4 linked regions of the Homo sapiens genome follow. The protein of the gene in region 4 interacts with the protein of the main gene of each other region in a pairwise test. Each region holds a gene or a part of one and is shown on either strand. Other genes may lie near its edges.

Region 1 (3,500 bases), on a different chromosome or scaffold from region 4:
CTGGTTAAGAAGGTTTAGCAGGAGCCTCCAATGAGCACTGTATGTAGAGAAAAGGGAAGGAGCAGGAGGAGGAACAGATCTGCACAGAATTTTTTTCTTAAAAACCACAAAGGGTGACTTTTTTCTTCTAAGCAAGCAAGCCTGAGAGGCATTACATGGGCTGGCTCCTAATATCAAAACAAAATATTTCTTTGCCACAAAGGAACTTGACTATGTAGCAACACATTTACAAAACTACTGCAAAACACTCCCAGAGGGCAGTGACCTACTCTGCTCCCCAGAGGCTCCAAGAAGCAAGGCCTCAAGTGCCTCATGTTCCATGGGGCTGTGCAGTGCAATGCAGAAGGCGGAAATCCTGCTGTGACGCCACCCTCGAGACCTTCTGCAGCCTGAGAGGGGGTGATACTCCCACACCCTTTGATCCTTCCAGATGGCTCAGCCTAGATCTAGCAGTGAGAGAGCCCTCTCCATGCAGGGCAGATGGAGTGGTGGACACTTGTGAAAACAAAACACTAACTGTTCCATCCTGTTATATTTGCTGTGAGGAAAATTAAGATTCCTGTTGTATGGGCTGCACTGTTTCTGGAAGACTACAGAAAATCTAACATGGTTGACACTTCCTGGTAGCCCTTCTGTACATACACACACACACACCCAGAGAGAAGACAGAGAGAAAATCCTGGTCCAAAAGATCACATGACCTTACTAGTGTTTCCCCAATGACTGTAATTTATAAACTAAAAATTTTTACAAATCCACTGCTATCTTCTTCTGTCCTGAGTTTGGTAGACTTTAATGGATGCTCCAGCAATAACCAGAATCTAGGACATGCAGACTCACTGTGAGCGAGAGGCTAGGGATCTGCCCTAAACATAGGAACCTGTTTCTATCAAGCCTGAATGAGGTCAGCTCTGGTAGAATTAATGACAAATCAATGTCAGTGAAATATTCTGCAAACAGGGTAGCTTTTGTGCTTTCTTTTGATTATTTTCTTTGGGGAGATAAAGGTATTGCAACCATGGGTCTAACTAATCTATCACTAAAGGACTGTGACGACATTCTCAATAAAGACAGTCATGGTGTTTACTGTGCCAAGGAGGGAAAATCCCAGATCATCAGAATCCCAGTGCAACAGAAAACAGCACCAGTTTCAACAATTCTGATGTTGGACAAAGCCTCTTTTTGTCAGTTAAGAAAGCGTAAGCACAATCTCTCAGTCAATTGCATTAACAGGAATCCATTCATGTCACTGAAAAATACTTCTTGGCACAGTTCACTTTCCTGACCCAAAGACACCAACAACAATCAAAACTGCACTTTCAGGGTAGTATATTGTTACACTAGCCCAGTCAAAACATACTCAGAACATTTAAAAATGTATAAATTACTGTTAGCACTGCAGTTCCGTTTTATTTTCTTATTTATTTATTAAGACAGAGTCTTACTCTGTTGCCCAGGCTGGAGTGCAGTGGCATGATCTTGGCTTACTGCAACCTCTGCCTCCCAGGTTTAAGCAATTCTCATGCTTCAGCCTACCAAGTAGCTGGGATTACAGGAGTGCACCATCATGCCCAGCTAATTTTTGTATTTTAGTAGAGATGGGGTTTTGCCATGTTGGTCAGGCTGGTCTCAAACTCCTGGCCTCAAGTGACCCACCTGCCTTGGCCTCCCAAAGTGCTGGGATTACAGGTGTGAGCCACTACACCCAGCCCTGCAGTCCCTTTTTAAAGAGTACTGACTGTTTTCCTGCAAAGTACTTTCAAATCCATACCATAAAGGTAGAATTTATCTGGAAGAATGTGTTTTTTGAATTCCACCTGGCACTTGGTTAAATCTACTTTATTTTGCCCTTTATTTATTTGAACAGAACTTTAGAATGCTCTAGGTCAGGAAAAGAAACAGTGTGTTCGTTTTTAAGAAGGATGTGTGAATAGTAAGTTGGCATTCAGACTCAAGTCCCATGGTATTGTTCTTATCCAATGGGACCTCTCCTTGGGAATATAATTCCTTTCCCAGAGGTATCATGGTATCCCAAGAATATAACTGCTCTTTGGCTCTGTGTGTGAAGATTGGGGGAGAGGATGTAAACTAAGAGTATATAGCAAAAAAAAAAAAAAAAATTTTTTTTTTTTTTTTTTGAGATGGAGTTTCACTCTTATCACCCAGGCTGGACGACAGTGGTGCAATCTCGGCTCACTGCAACCTCTGCCTCCCAGGTTCAAGCGATTATCTCGCCTCAGCCTCCCAAGTAGCTGGGATTACAGGCGCCCACCTAATTTCTGCATTTTTAGTAGAGACGGGGTTTCACCATGTTGGTCAGGCTGGTCTCAAACTCCTGACCTCAGGTGATCCACCTGCCTCAGCCTCCCAAAGTGCTGGGATTACAGGTGTGAGCCACCGTGCCCAGTGAGTAGACAGCAAAATTTAAAGTTCACCAACTGATGTTCCCAAAAGTGCTGAACACTAAATGACACAGGGCTATGAGGTACATACATTTCTTTTAGTAGGAGGGAAAAGTAAAAGCTTTTCAAAGTTTGAGTGCTTTATTAGAATTTTTAAATGAGGCGAACTATGATTTTAATTTCACATCTTGGCTAAGGAGATGCCACTGGAGTACAGAGATAATCTCCTGTCTTAAGCCACGGATCAGTCAGTGTAGCCCTCCCTACCCCTCAATCTCAAGACCCTCTTACTTCCGAACTAAACAACACAATTGGCAAATGAAGCCAGCACGAAACTGTATCAAAAAACAAGAGAGTCTGCAGTGAGCCAGTGTATTATGTAACCACTGTAATAAGTGATTACGTGGCCTCCCATATGGACCTTTCATATCCTGGTGGGAGATGGGAGACCAATTTAATAGCTCTGAGCATGCTCCATGGTGCAATCACAAGTGCCATGCCAATACAAAGACAAGCAAGCAGGTGAATTTCCCTAGTGTACTTTTCAGGAACACGGTTACTCAGTTCAGGGACAGGACTACATTGATGCACCTGCAAAGTAAAGTTGGATGCTTCAGAGCACATGGATGATACCCAGGTCAGCACGGTGTAAGGCATATATGGACACAAAGAGAGGCCATTGTTGGCAATAAATAGCATTACGGAAAAGATTCCAAACCAGCAGAACAGAAATGGACCTGATGCTCCAGTTTTTTAGATAAGTAATCCCAAGAATCCAGTTCCAACTCTACTGTCAACATGTGGGGCAGAATTCAATTTCTATCATTGTTTTTACAGATCTGGGCTGAGGCCATTTGCTCCTTGCTTGGTTAAAAAAAAATAAAAAAATAAAAAAAGGTTTCTTCCTGTTTCTTTCTGGGCAGGGAAATACAGCTTAAAGAAGGAAAGGCCATGAGTCCTGGGAGCACTATGAAGGTAGCTAAACTCTTCCCATATCTACAGTCAATGACTGGGAAATAGAGAAAGGACAGGGCAACCTGCCCAGCCACTAGCATCGAAAACAAAAAGGTATGTTAATTGTGAGGCTCTCAATTCTAG
Region 2 (4,459 bases), on a different chromosome or scaffold from region 4:
AAGTAACTAGTGTAAGTGTTTTCCTTCTCAACTTGTTCATCCTTCCTTACCTCACAAAACTGATTTATGAAAAAACAGTCCTCCCCACCACTCACAAACTGGCTGTCCCAAGAAGACTGGTACAAGGCTTCTAATTGAGCCAGATTTGCCATTCCTTTTTCCTGTTTTTCTTGGCTTACTGACTTTGATATCAAACTTTTCAATTCTAGTTGGGACACTGAGCTATTCAAGTCATTTAATTTATCAACAACATCAGTAGGCTCATGCTGGGAACTAAGCTGAATAGTTCCTGCAATAAAGGAATCAAAATCAAATCCCTGATTCTTTTCCCTTTCTTTTCCAGCCAGTTGCTGTGATGCTTCCTCTAGCGCTATCTGGGCTTTAACCAATCCATTCCTTTCACATTTTGATTTGCCTTTCTTATCAGATTTTTCTTTGCTTTGTTCTTTCCAATTGGAAAGATCTATAATAAGCTTGGGTTCATAGTAATGGTTAACTTCACTCTCTCTCCAAACTAAGTTATCTAAATATGATGATGACCTCGTTTTGTAGTTACAAGTATGGCTACACTCCAGATCACAATATTTGTTTTCATGATGATCTGAGTATTGCCAACAAGGCTCAGTAGAGTAATTGGTATCAAAAGCAGGATCCTCCAGATACTTTTCCCGATCTCCATCCAAATATTTTCGGGGATCAACTTGTACTTCTTCTTCATCAGTGACATCGGACAGAGCTCTTGGATCAAGCTGAACTTCATCAATATCAAAGTTGTTATGTACAGGCCAATCATGCTCTGAAAACTGACAATCATGATACCTGAAAAAAATCAATACACTAGCGTTATTCTACGTATATGATTTCATTTTCAAATTCACCGAGTACCTTCTATGTGACAGCACTGTGCTAGGTCTATGAGGGGATAATTATAGGAGAGTAAATATGCCTGCCTTGCCCTACCAGAACTTAGTCTTGATAGGAAAGCTCTGTTAATATATTTGGTAATTGCCAATGCAGTATGTAACTTCATTTCCAATTTGTTTTTTGTCCACCAGTTCCATGCAAACAAAAGACTTCATAGCCACAAAATGCAGATCTCAAATCTCAATCAGGTACCTTACAAATGTTTACTCTACAGTAAGGGCAACTAGAAGAGGAGGAGGTTTGCTAAATGTTTACTCTACAGTAAGGGCAACTAGAAGAGGAGGAGGTTTGCTGGAAAACTCATCACCATGAATAGCAAAAATCTCCCTGTGTATACGTGCTGCTGAATGCGCTATCCTATTACTGACATGTATAATCATTGAGGGAAAAGAAAAGAGATTAGATAACTTAGCTAGGTAAAATAGAAAATGCAGGTCAGGTGCAGTGGCTCAGGCCTGCAATGCTAGCACTTCAAGAAGGCCAAGGTGGATGGATCACTTGAGGTCAGGAGTTTGAAACCAGCCTGGCCAACATGGTGAAACCCCCACTACTAAAAATACAAAAATTAGCTGAACATGGTGGCGGGTGCCTATAGTCCCAGCTAGTAGGGAGGCTGAGGCAGGAGAACTGCTTGAACTCAGGAGGTTGCAGTGAGCAGAGAGATGGGCACCATTGCACTCCAGCCTGGCAACAGAGTGAGACTCCGTCTCAAAAAAGAAAAGAACCATTATTTAGGGGGTAGAAATGGACACATGGAGAAAAAAAGTAGTTTGCAGATTTGTGTAAACATACCATACCAATACATCAACATTTGAGGAGGGGGAAAAAAATTTCTTCTTAAAATCTTAAGATTAAAAAGATTGGCATTAGTGGTTCCCAAACTTGGCCATACATCAAAATCACCTGATGACTCTATAAGCTACCATCCTACTCTGAAGCATCAAAATCACCTGATGACTCTATAAGCTACCATCCTACTCTGAAGCAGAATTATATCTAAACTTCCCCAGAAATGTATTTATTTATTTATTTGAAACGGAGTCTTGCTCTGTCGCCCAGGCTGGAGTGCAGTGGTGCAATCTCGGCTCACTGCAACTGCTGCCTCCCAGGTTCAAGTGATTCTCCTGCCTCAGCCTCCTGAGTAGCTGGGACTACAAGAGCCCGCCATCAAGCCTGGCTTATGTTTGTATTTTTAGTAGAGACCGGGTTTCACCACGTTAGCCAGGCTGGTCTCGAACTCCTGACCACAGGTAATTGGCCTGCCTCAGCCTCGCAAAGTGCTGGGATTACAGGCATGAGCCACCGCGCCCAGCCAAACTTTCCTAGAAATCCAATTATTTCACTTTATGAAACATCAAAATATGGATAACATTATACACTAATGTTTAGACCTAAAAAAGTCTCTTTTACTGAACCTATGTTAAGTGTCCCCAAATTAATTGTGTCATTAGGAAAACAGATTCAAATACTGGCTGAGTACGGTGGTTCACGCCTATAATTTCAGCACTGTGGGAGGCCAAGGCAGGCAGATCACCTGAGGTCAGGAGTTCGAGACCAGCCTGGCCAACATAAAATCCCACCTCTACTAAAAATTAGCTGGGTACCTGTAATCCCAGCTACTCGGGAGGCTGAGGCAGGACAGTGAGCTGAGCTTGCATCACTGCACTCCAGCCTGCACTCTAGCCTGGGTGACAGAGTGAGATTCCATCTCAAAAAAAAAAAAAAAAAATCCTGCATCTAATATGAATCAAATACTTTTTATGTTAAGATATAACTACCACTGAGACACTGGAGATACTTTATTGGATATGACTGAGTCTTGTCATCTAACATCTTAAATTTTTGACATTCATAAAATCACAGTTAAAGGACTTTATAAATATGCCTTAATGACTTTGAAAATGTTTCAAAGTAGCATTTAACTTTTCCCATATATCATCTAACCAGTAATTACTTTATTAAATGTTTTAATTAACGGCTATTTATAGATATAAATATTAAGGACCATTACTAAATTTTTCTTTGAGATGGAGTCTTGCTCTATTGCCCAGACTGGAATGCAGTGGCATAATCTCGGCAGCCTCGGCCACTTGGGTTCAAGTGATTTTCCTGCCTCAGCCTCCAAGTAGCTAGGACTACAGGCGCCTGCCACCACACCTGACTAATTTTTGTATCTTTACATTACTAAATTTTTAAGACTTCTACAATGTCTTATACATAATTTTAAAAAAACTCACTACATATGGTCCACTGAAAGTTCAGTAAATATTATTTTTCTAATTTAGGATCAATTTACCTTTCCCAGTTATAAATGTGACTGTGAGTTTCATCCATAAGCAAAATATCATCAACTTCATCTTCAATATGAAAAGGATGGCTTGAAATTGGCTCATCCATTGGAAAAGAATATATGCTCATGTAAGGATGGGAGAGTGCTTCTTCTGCTGTTAACCGATCCATGGGGCTAAATGTCAAAATTTGTTCCAGGAAATCCAGTGCTGCAGAGGAAAAGGTAAAAGTTTTTCAGAAAAGAATTGCTTACCTTTAGAAAAACAGTAAATGTTGATCTCATTTATTTCAATGACTAGCTAAGTGATTACCTTAGCACTACATACTACACAACAGGAAATGAGCATCTTAATTGTACTAATAGGTCCCCATCTTATAAAAGGGAAAAATGGACTACACAATTAAAAAGTTAATTTGTCAGAAATAAAACTTACCTGATTTACAACTTAAAAACGATTTTCTGGCTGAGTGTGGTGGCTCACGCCTGTAATCCCGGCCTAATATATAGGTTTTAATCCTAGCTCTGCAAGTCACTGGCTTAACTCAATTACTAGCACTGTAGTGCTGGATAGGCTACTAAAACTTGATGAACATCAGTTTCTTCATGCATAAAGTAGACATAGATATTTCATAAGGTACAAAAATGAGATGTAATCATAGTGTCTGGTATGTAATAAAAGCCCTTTCCCATCCTTCACTGATGGGAAGTACAACAGTAAAACATCTCTGTTGTACTAATTTCTTGATCTCTGCTTCACATCACACTCCAGCATAGTTCACACACTGACCTTGCACATCTTAGGACTCTGGTTAACCACAAATCCAGTTCTTCCCATAAAATAGTCTAGTAGGCCTTCCTTAGTTCCTCACGCAGCCTGAAAGCTATATTTACACCAGCCACACACTTCTATGCCTTATGATATCAACCTTCAACCCTGGATCACCACCACCATCTACTCTCTCTGCTCCCTGGCCACACAAAACTGATGAAAACTAGCTGCAATATCCCATATCTGGCTCATTACAAATTCATACTAAACAATTTCATTGTGACCTTTGCTATCTGGCCTTCTCTTTATGCTCTCGGTCTTCTTTATCATTCTCAACAGATAAACCCACTTCACATTTGTCTCAATCCCTACCTCTTCACTATGGTCACTCACACATCCTCTTATCCTTGCCTTCTAAGTGAGAAAGATGGCCTTTCTCTCTCAAGCCAACCTGTACTCTAGAAAGAACCCTTTTC
Region 3 (4,459 bases), on a different chromosome or scaffold from region 4:
GCCAAGGTGGGAGGATCACTTGAGCCCAGGAATTCAAGACCAGCCTGGGCAACATAGCTACATCCTATTCTCTATAAAAAAAAATTTGTTTTAATTAGTGGGGCTTGGTGGCATGCACCTGTGGTCCCAGCAACATGGGAGGCTAAAGTGGGAGGACTGCTTGAGCCCAAGAGGTTGAGGCTGCAGTAAGCCTTGATCACACCACTGCACTCCAGCCTAGGTGACAGAGTGAGAACCAGTGTCTTAAAAAAAAGACAATGGGGCTGGGTGTGGTGGCTCACGCCTGTAATCCCAGCACTTTGGGAGGCCAAGGCAGGCGGGTCACTTGAAGCCAGGAGTTTGAGACCAGCCTGGCCAACATGGTGAAACCCCATCTCTACTAAAAATACAAAAATTAGCTGGGTGTGGTGGCACGCACCTGTAATACCAGCTACTAGGGAGGCTGAGGCAGGAGAATCACTTCAACCCGGGAGGTGGAGGTTTCAGTGAGCCGAGATCATGCCACTGCACTCCAGCCTGGGTGACAAAGTGAGACTCCATCTCAAAAAAATAAATAAATAAAAATAAAAGTAAAAATAGACAAAGGAAAAACATGAAAATCCGAACAAAAATTCTGCTTGAGTGCTGGGACTTTGGTACCTAAGCTGTTAGTCCTCTTCCGATGTTCTTTAATTCAACCAACACTGATCAAGCATTTGCTCTGTGCCTGGCACCGTTTTTAATGCTGAGAGTACAACAGTGAACAAAAACACAATCCCTGTCCCCACATAGCTGACATGCCAGGGGAGAGACCAATGCCACAGAAAACAAACACATCAAACACACAGAATGGTGATTTAGTGCGGCAGATGGGCAGGGAGAGCAGGGAGCGCTGGTGGGGGCCCTGCTGAGGGCGGCAGCCAAGCCTCGCCTGGCCTCAGGGAGGTGGAGACAGCGCCGTGCGGCTCTGCGAGTGTGGAACAGCAGTGGAAACAGCAAGCACAAAGCCTCTGAGCAGGAGTGCACAGGGCTGCGGGGACAGGAGGCTGCCTCTGTGCGCCACTGCCGGTGAAGAGCTTTTCTAAAGAAAAATACCCGAATATCTCTTTTGTTTAAAGTTATTAAAAACGGCCAGGCAAGGTGGTTCATGCCTGTAATCCCAGCACTTTGGGAGGCCGAGGTGGGTGGATCACCTGAGGCTAGGAGTTCGAGATCAGCCTGGCCAGCATGGCGAAATCCCATCTCTACTAAGTTAGCTGGGCGTGGTGGCGGGCTCCTGTAGTCCCAGCTACTGGGGAGGGAGGCTCAGGCAGGAGAATCACTTGAACCCAGGAGGCAGAAGTTGCGGTGAGCAGAGATCATGCCACTGCACTCCAGCCTGGGCAACAGAGCGAGACTCCATCTCTAAATAAATAAATAAATAAAGTTATTAAAAATGGTCAACATTCTACTAACGCTCAATCATCGTGTATACAACATTAACTATGTTTTATTTTTGTTTATTTTTTTTGAGAGGGCCTCTGTTGCCCAGGCTGGAGAGTGCAGATCTTGGCTCACTGCAGCCTCAACTTCCTGGGCTCAAGCGATCCTCCCACCTCAGCCTCCTGAGTAGCTGGGACTACAGGAGCATCCCACCACACCTGCCTGGCTTTTTTTTTATTTTTAGTAGAGACAGGGCCTCCCTATGTTGCCCAGGCTGGCCTTGAACTCCTGAGCTCAAGCAATTTTCCCACCTCCCAAGTTTGCCAAGGTGCCAGGATAACAGGTGTGAGCCAAAGCACCCAGCCAATATTAACTACAAGTGGCAAGTTGTGGAAAACCTTTTCATTTACTCCAGAATATCAGTTCTGTTTGGCAACCTGCAGATCTGACAAGGAGCAAACCTGCAAAAGACCTTCTGACTGTGACATGACTGTGGGTTTAGTCACTGTTTACAGGAGGCCCTGATGTGTGACCAAAGAAATGACCTGGAGCCACAGATCAACCAAGGCAGGTCCCAGGATCTCCCAGGCAGCATCCTCCCCACGCTGTGGCCACTACGGGCTTGTGGCAAGGAATCCTGGCAGCCTCCTTGGAGCCGCTGCCAGAATGGGCAGCAGAGTGTGTGCGAGGTGAGGTGGCGCTCTGTGCGGTGGGCCGCGGTCCTGGTCACATTGCACTGAACGGAATCATGCAGGGCCTAGAACAGCAGGTGCTACAGGGGCTGCTCTGTCCTCATCCCCAAGTTCCGTGGAAGTGGAACAAAATAACCGACTGGAAACCCCAAGACACAGTTTACTCTGCGCAAACCCCAGGGGAGGGACTGGCCTTCCCATTGCCTCTGCAACCCTAGCACACGGCAAAGCACAGACACTGAGGCACCCACTGAAAGGAACTTAGCGCCATCAGCCTCACTCCAGAAACTTCGATTTAAAACATGAAGCATTTCAAAGTCAGAGATTTTGTGCATATGATATGAGATTTTTGCTTTTTAGTTAGCTTTCATGGATGATGATAGTGCTGAATTCAACCTATGTTTTCCCAAAGAGATTTTTCTTATTTGAACCATGGAACAGTATTTTCCATTGCACAGCCTTTCCGGATGGTGACCAACAGTGATAACCCCTATAAAACAGGGCAACACCGGTAACCCCTTCGTGGGGCTGCTGCAAGGGTGACACAGCATCAGCCTGAGACCTCCTTTGAAAAGCTTGGAATAAGAAAGCACCCAAACAGCACAAGAACCACCTGCTTTCTTCCAACTCTGCAAGCACAGCTCATTTACTCACCTGACTGAAGTAACAGTGTAAAAGACAAGCGTTCAGGTAAGAAGCTGACTGGACCAGTTTGAAAAATCTCACAAAATTATTACTGTTCAATGCAGCAAAAGCCTGAACAGCAAATTTCACCTCAGATGAGTTTCTAACAGCAGGATGGAACTGTTGTACTTCTCTGTTAATTAAAGGAGAGAAAAGGGGTTGGAATGTTATTTTAAATAAGACAAAATTTTCATGAAGATAGATCTGATAAATAATAGATTTCACTGGCCAGATGCAGTGGCTCACACCTGTAATCCCAAAACGTGGGGAGGCCAAGGTGGGAGGATCGTTTGAGCCCAGGAGGTTGAGGCTGCAGTGAGCTGTGATCGCATCACTGTACTCCAGCCTGGGTGACAGAGCAAGACCCTGTCTCAAGTAATAATGATACTGGATTTCAACCATACTGAGAAGGAGGGTCTTACTGGTGAAATGTGCCGTTAAATTCATAGTTTACTAACTACCACGCTTGGATTGGTTTGACAAAGGTTTCCTTCAAAACAATAATGAATAGAATAAACAAATTCAAAAAGCAATTTAGGAATCAGTTATCAAAAAGTTACTTTAAAGTAATGCCAATGGACTGTCAGCTGTGCTGGATGGTAAAGTCTAAAAAACAGAAAACTTAACTCTTTTTGTTTAGAAATGAATTGATTTTGACTGAATTATTCGTGATGGAGAACAAATGCTTGTCACGTAGAAAAAGACAATACAGCAATCTTTCATAACCAGTTTAATTTTTTTTTTTTTTGAGACAGAGTACTTGCTCTATCACCCAGGCTGGAGTGCACTGGCACAATCACAGTTCATTGCAGCTTCAACCTCCTGGCCTCAAGCAACCCTCTCATCTCGGCCTCCCAAAGTGCTGTGATAACAGGCCATGGGCCACCACACCTGGGTTTTTTTTTTTTTTTTTTAAGAGATAGGGTCTTGCTTTGTCACCCAGACTGGAGGACAGTGGCATGATCACAGCTTACTGCAGCCTTGACCTCCTGGGCTCAAGGGATCCTCCCACCTCAGCCTCCCCAGTCGCTGGAACTACAGGCACACATCACCACACCTGGTTAATTTTATTTATTTATTCATTTTTGTGGAAGGGTCTCACCATGTTGCCCAGGCTATACAAGGCTTAATTTTAAAATTTAAAATCAGCCGGGCATGGAGACTCTAACTGTAATCCCAGCACTTTGGGAGGCCGAGGCAGGTGGATCACCTGAGGTCAGGAGTTCCGGACAAGCCTGGCCAACATGGTGAAACCCTGTCTCTACTAAAAATACAAAAAAATGAGGCGGGCATGGTGGTATGTGCCTGTAATCCCAGCTACTCAGGAGACTGAGGCAAGAGAATCGCTTGAACCCAGGAGGTGGAGGTTGCAGTGAGCCAAGATCGCACTACTGTACTCCGGCCTGGGCAACAGAGCAGGACTCGGTCTCAAAAATAAAATGAAATAAAAAATTAAAATCAACCACACATCTAGATATTCTGTCACACAGTTCTTGAGGAAAATACAAAGAAAAAAAAAAGAGGTTCACCATTGATAGGGGATTCTTAGAACTAAAGGGGACACTGTCCACCATAAGTCCAGCTTAACCACAAGCAGAGGGTCCACCACAAGCAGAGGGCCAGAGAGCTCGCCAGACTTCGCATGTAAGTGACTAATTATGGATCAGACCAGGGTTTTACAT
Region 4 (4,459 bases):
CCATCAACAGCCAAGTTGTGACAACTACATATGAAATATCTGAGTCCGCAAATGCATATATTCTTTCTTCTTCTATCTAGGGAAATACAGGAAGGATTAAGAATTTTTCTGTTAAGAGCCCAAATCTCCTAGAGTCTCAATTTCACTAATACACAGAGAGACACACTACTCCTCCCACACAAGAGCAAAATGTGCCCGAGCCCAAAAAAGGGAGTAGGAAAAATCTTTACAACTGTCTTCAAGAATGAAAGACCACCATTGTAACAACAGTCTATATATTTCTGCTAAACTCAGATTTATGTGGGGGAGGGAAGGGAAAGTGAAAAACAAGTTATACCTCCTCTGAAATGATATACTGTTTGCCATTCTGAGAAGATTCCGTTGGTTCTTGGCTCTCCATTTTCAAACGAGTCTTTACAGCCCTCAGGTGAGAAGTTCACCCTGCAAGATAATGAGATTTGTTCAGGCTAAAATTATTTTTCTGAATTAAACATTCGTCCACAGGACACTAGTCAAAGTACTTAAACGGCAAAAAATTCATCTACCATCAACGCTGCCTGTCTCAGTATGTGAGGGAACTGCCGCAGGTGGAAATGTGAACAGGGAGGCCCGGGGATTAGCCAGGAAGGAAGTGACAGCAGTCCTAGTCACCCTCAGCCACAACAGCCAAGCTCCTGCCATGCCTGTTCTAGGCACTTAGAGGCCACCCTTCTTCATCAGATTTTTCTTTTTTTTTTTTTCTTTTTTGTTTTTTTTGAGAGAGTCTCACTCTGTTGCCCAGGGTGGAGTGCAATGGCGCGATCTCAGCTCACTGCAACCTCCGCCTCCTGGGTTCAAGTGATCCTCGTGCCTCAGCCTCCCGAGTAGCTGGGATTACAGGCATACATCACCAGGCCTGGTAATTTTTATATTTTTAGTAGAGACAGGGTTTCACCACGTTGGCCATGCTGCTCTCAACCTCCTGACATCAAGTGATCTGCCCTCCTTGGCCTCCCAAAGTGCTGGGATTACAGGCGTGAGCTACCGCGCCCAGCCTGATTTTTCTGACTCCGAATCTTAAACTCTTTCCAAGGGAAGACAGAAGAAAGATTTACCACTCTCCATGCCCACCTCTCAGTCTTTTATCCATCTGTTACACCTAAACTTACTTATTTTTTGAGATGTAAGATCTCACTCTGTTGCACAGGTTGGAGTGCAGTGGCGAAATCATGGCTCACTGTAGCCTCTACCTCCCAAGCTCACGTGCTCCTCGCATCTCAGCCTCCTGAGTAGCTGGGATTACAGGTGCATGCTACCACAGCCAACTAATGTTTTAAACTTTTGGTAGAGGTGGGGTCTCACTATGTTTCACAGGCTGGTCTCAGACTCCCGGGCTCAAGCGATCCTCCTCCCGCCTCGGTGTCCCAAAGTGCTGGGATTACAGGCATGAGCCACTGGACCCACCTCCCCACTTACTTTTAAGTTTCAGCATGTATCAAAGTCATAGTTGCAGAGAAAGGATCGAGTAGTACTACAAGTTCTGTTATGAAAAGAGCAGGCCCTTATCCCATTTATTGTATATTATTATTTCCTCTTTCTTTATTCCTTCATTTTCGGACCTTGCCTGTCCGAAGGTCAAAGTCTTTTTTTCTTACCCACACACATGGTTGTTAATTCAGCTGTATATAGAATTATAGACCCAAAGCCAGTTGTCTATGAAACTGTAAGGCATTGCTTAGTTGTCTTACTTCTGGTGCTGCTGTTGAGAAGTCCAAAGCTATTCTTATTCTTGATCTTTTTGCCATGTGACCTGTCTTCCTCCTCTGGAAGCTTGTAGTTAGTCACTTTCATGTCGATGTTATTGTACTGGGAAGTCAAGTGGGTCCTTTCAATCTGGAAACTTCTTACTATGCTTCTTTACAGGGAATTTTTTTCTTGAACGACTTCACTGATGATTTCCTCCCCTGTGTTTTCTCTGTTGTTTCTTTTAAGAACTGTTACTTGGACCAGGCACAGTGGCTCACACCTGGAATCCTAGCCCTTTGGGGGACCAAGAGTCTGAGACCAGCCTGGGTAACATGGCAAAACCCTGTCTCCACAAAAATAAAAAATAAAAAAATTAGCCGGGTGTGGTGGTGGGCACCTGTAGTCCCAGCTACTCAGGAAGCTGAGGCAGGAGGGTCATTTGGACCCAGGAGTTGGGGGTTGCAGAGAGCCGAGATCACGCCACTGCACTCTTACGTTCCACGGTTCTCTAACCTACCCCACCTAACTTCGGCTTCAAAGAAAATACAGCCCACCCAGCATCAACTCTCTTCCCAACTGTCCTAAAGGAAAAAGTGAGTCTGCTCTTTGTTTCTTCTGGGACCCAAAGTGATCATACTACCCATCTGATCTTCAATTTGTCCCCAAGACAGCAAGCTTCCCTATTCTAAAATACAATCAATAACAAAACCAACTGTATGAATATTCATAAAGTGCGTTTACAAATCAAATATCTGATTGACTATCATAGGTAACCCTTGTGGCCAACCTGTGAAAGGTGAGATGATGTTTTAGGAAAGTGGCGGTGAGGCCGGGTGCGGTGGCTCACGCCTCACGCCTACAATCCCAGCACTTTGGGAGGCCAGGGCGGGTGGATCACGAGGTCAAGAGATGGAGACCATCCTGGCCAACATGGTGAAACCCTGTCTCTACTAAAAATACAAAAATTAGCTGGACGTGGTGGGGTGCGCCTGTAGCCCCAACTACAGGGAAGGCTGAGGGAGGAGAATGGCTTGAACCCAGGAGATGGAGGTTGCAGTGAGCTGAGATCGTGCCACTGCACTGCAGCCTGGCGACAGAGCAAGACTCCATCTAAAAAAAAAAAAAAAAAAAAAAAAGTGGTGGTGAGAGGGACAAAGACCCTCACTCCCCCGGACCTCATTTTCCAGTGAGGAGAAAGGAAAAACAGTGAGGAAGAACACAAAATTTATGTCAAGTGACTCAGCGTTTCATGAAGAAAGATTAAAAAGGATGAGAAGTGTGGGGAAGATGGGAAGAGTAATCTACACGGAGTGATCAGGCAAGGCCTGTTTAATTTGGTGACTTCTGAATGGAGACCTGAAAGCAATAAGGAAGTAAACCACGTAGAAGTTTAAATATTTAGAGACAGACATTAGCATATTGAAACCTGCAGCCCTACTAAGAAAACAGGCACTTATTCCTTTGAAAGTACCATAGATGATAATTTATTAGGTAAACTTTTTTTTTTGAGATGGAGTTTCGCTCTTGTTGCCCGGCTGGAGTGCAAAGGCATGATCTCGGCTCACTGCAACCTCTGCCTCACGGATTCAAGCGATTCTCCTGCCTCAGCCTCCCGAGTACCTGGGATTACAGGCTCCTACCACTGCACCCGGCTAATTTTTACATTTTTAGTAGAGATGGGGTTTTGCCATGTTGGGCAGGCTGGCCTCGAACTCCTGACCTCAGGTGATCCACCAGCCTCAGCCTCCCAAAGTGCTGGGATTACAGGCGTGAACCACCGTGCCTGGCCGCTAAAAGAGAGTATTTCTTTGGAATGCAATCAGCCTCAAAGGGAAACAGTATCGTGCAGCAATCCACTGATTCCGTGAATGACAAAAATGAGCTATTTCAAGAGCATATTCTTAACTATGAGATTCCCAAACATTTCAGAAGGACTGTAAAAGTACCTCAGAAATTTTTAGAAACAGAAAAGGAATGTTGTTTTTAGCACCATTTCAAAAGCAGAAGCCAAATAGTGCCATTCGGGGGCCAGTCACTGCCAGCAACACGCTGCAGAAAGAACGAGAAATGAGCTTTAAATTCCGTGCTTTGTAAGCCAGCGTCTCCGCCACTGCAACGGAGTTTGCCTTCACTGACTCAACGCTATTTCAAGATTTAAAAGCAAACTTTGATATAAATTTTATCCACTTCATTAGTTAGAATTTAAGGTAATTTGCATATTGCCAATATGTGTATGGTATGAAAAAGATACATGTACACGATGTTGAGTGTTCTACAATTTTTTTTTTTTTTTTTGAGACAGAGTCTTGCCTTGTCGCCCAGGCTGGAGTGCAGTGGCGCGATCTCCGCTCACTGCAAGCTCCGCCTCCTGGGTTCATGCCATTCTCCTGCCTCAGCCTCCCAAGTAGCTGGGATTACAGGTACCTGCCACCATGCCTGATTAATTTTTTGTATTTTTAGGAGAGACGGGGTTTCACCGTGTTAGGATGGTCTCGATCTCCTGACCTCGTGATCCACCCGCCTCGGCCTGCCAAAGTGCTGGAATTACAGGCGTGAGTCACCGCGCCAGCGAGTGTTCTACAATTTCATTTATGATTTTCCTTAGTCTTTAAAGTCACAAGCTGTTTTAATTCTCATAAATCGTTTTAACTCAGTTCAGTTTGAACACTGAAGGTCTAGGATGTGTTGGATGTGTAATTCTCCAGAGCATAAAAAAAACACTAGTGAGGGGAAA

What was found.
Region 1: the proteins of NUDT5 (region 4) and NUDT3 interact in a two-hybrid assay, tested with the Homo sapiens proteins (one large-scale study listed by BioGRID and IntAct).
Region 2: the proteins of NUDT5 (region 4) and MAPK6 interact in a two-hybrid assay, tested with the Homo sapiens proteins (one large-scale study listed by BioGRID and IntAct).
Region 3: the proteins of NUDT5 (region 4) and MCM3AP interact in a two-hybrid assay, tested with the Homo sapiens proteins (one large-scale study listed by BioGRID and IntAct).

What each region holds. Positions count from the first base shown.
Region 1 is NC_000006.12:34,284,670-34,288,169, forward strand, and holds part of NUDT3 (diphosphoinositol polyphosphate phosphohydrolase 1), read right to left. Parts: 3' UTR 1-3,500. UniProt on the Homo sapiens protein: Cleaves a beta-phosphate from the diphosphate groups in PP-InsP5 (diphosphoinositol pentakisphosphate) and [PP]2-InsP4 (bisdiphosphoinositol tetrakisphosphate), suggesting that it may play a role in signal transduction.
Region 2 is NC_000015.10:52,060,262-52,064,720, reverse strand, and holds part of MAPK6 (mitogen-activated protein kinase 6), read right to left. Parts: intron 3,423-4,459; coding exon 3,221-3,422; intron 820-3,220; coding exon 1-819. UniProt on the Homo sapiens protein: Atypical MAPK protein. Phosphorylates microtubule-associated protein 2 (MAP2) and MAPKAPK5.
Region 3 is NC_000021.9:46,267,654-46,272,112, forward strand, and holds part of MCM3AP (germinal-center associated nuclear protein), read right to left. Parts: intron 2,911-4,459; coding exon 2,748-2,910; intron 1-2,747.
Region 4 is NC_000010.11:12,185,892-12,190,350, forward strand, and holds part of NUDT5 (ADP-sugar pyrophosphatase), read right to left. Parts: intron 442-4,459; 5' UTR 401-441; coding exon 338-400; intron 1-337. UniProt on the Homo sapiens protein: Enzyme that can either act as an ADP-sugar pyrophosphatase in absence of diphosphate or catalyze the synthesis of ATP in presence of diphosphate.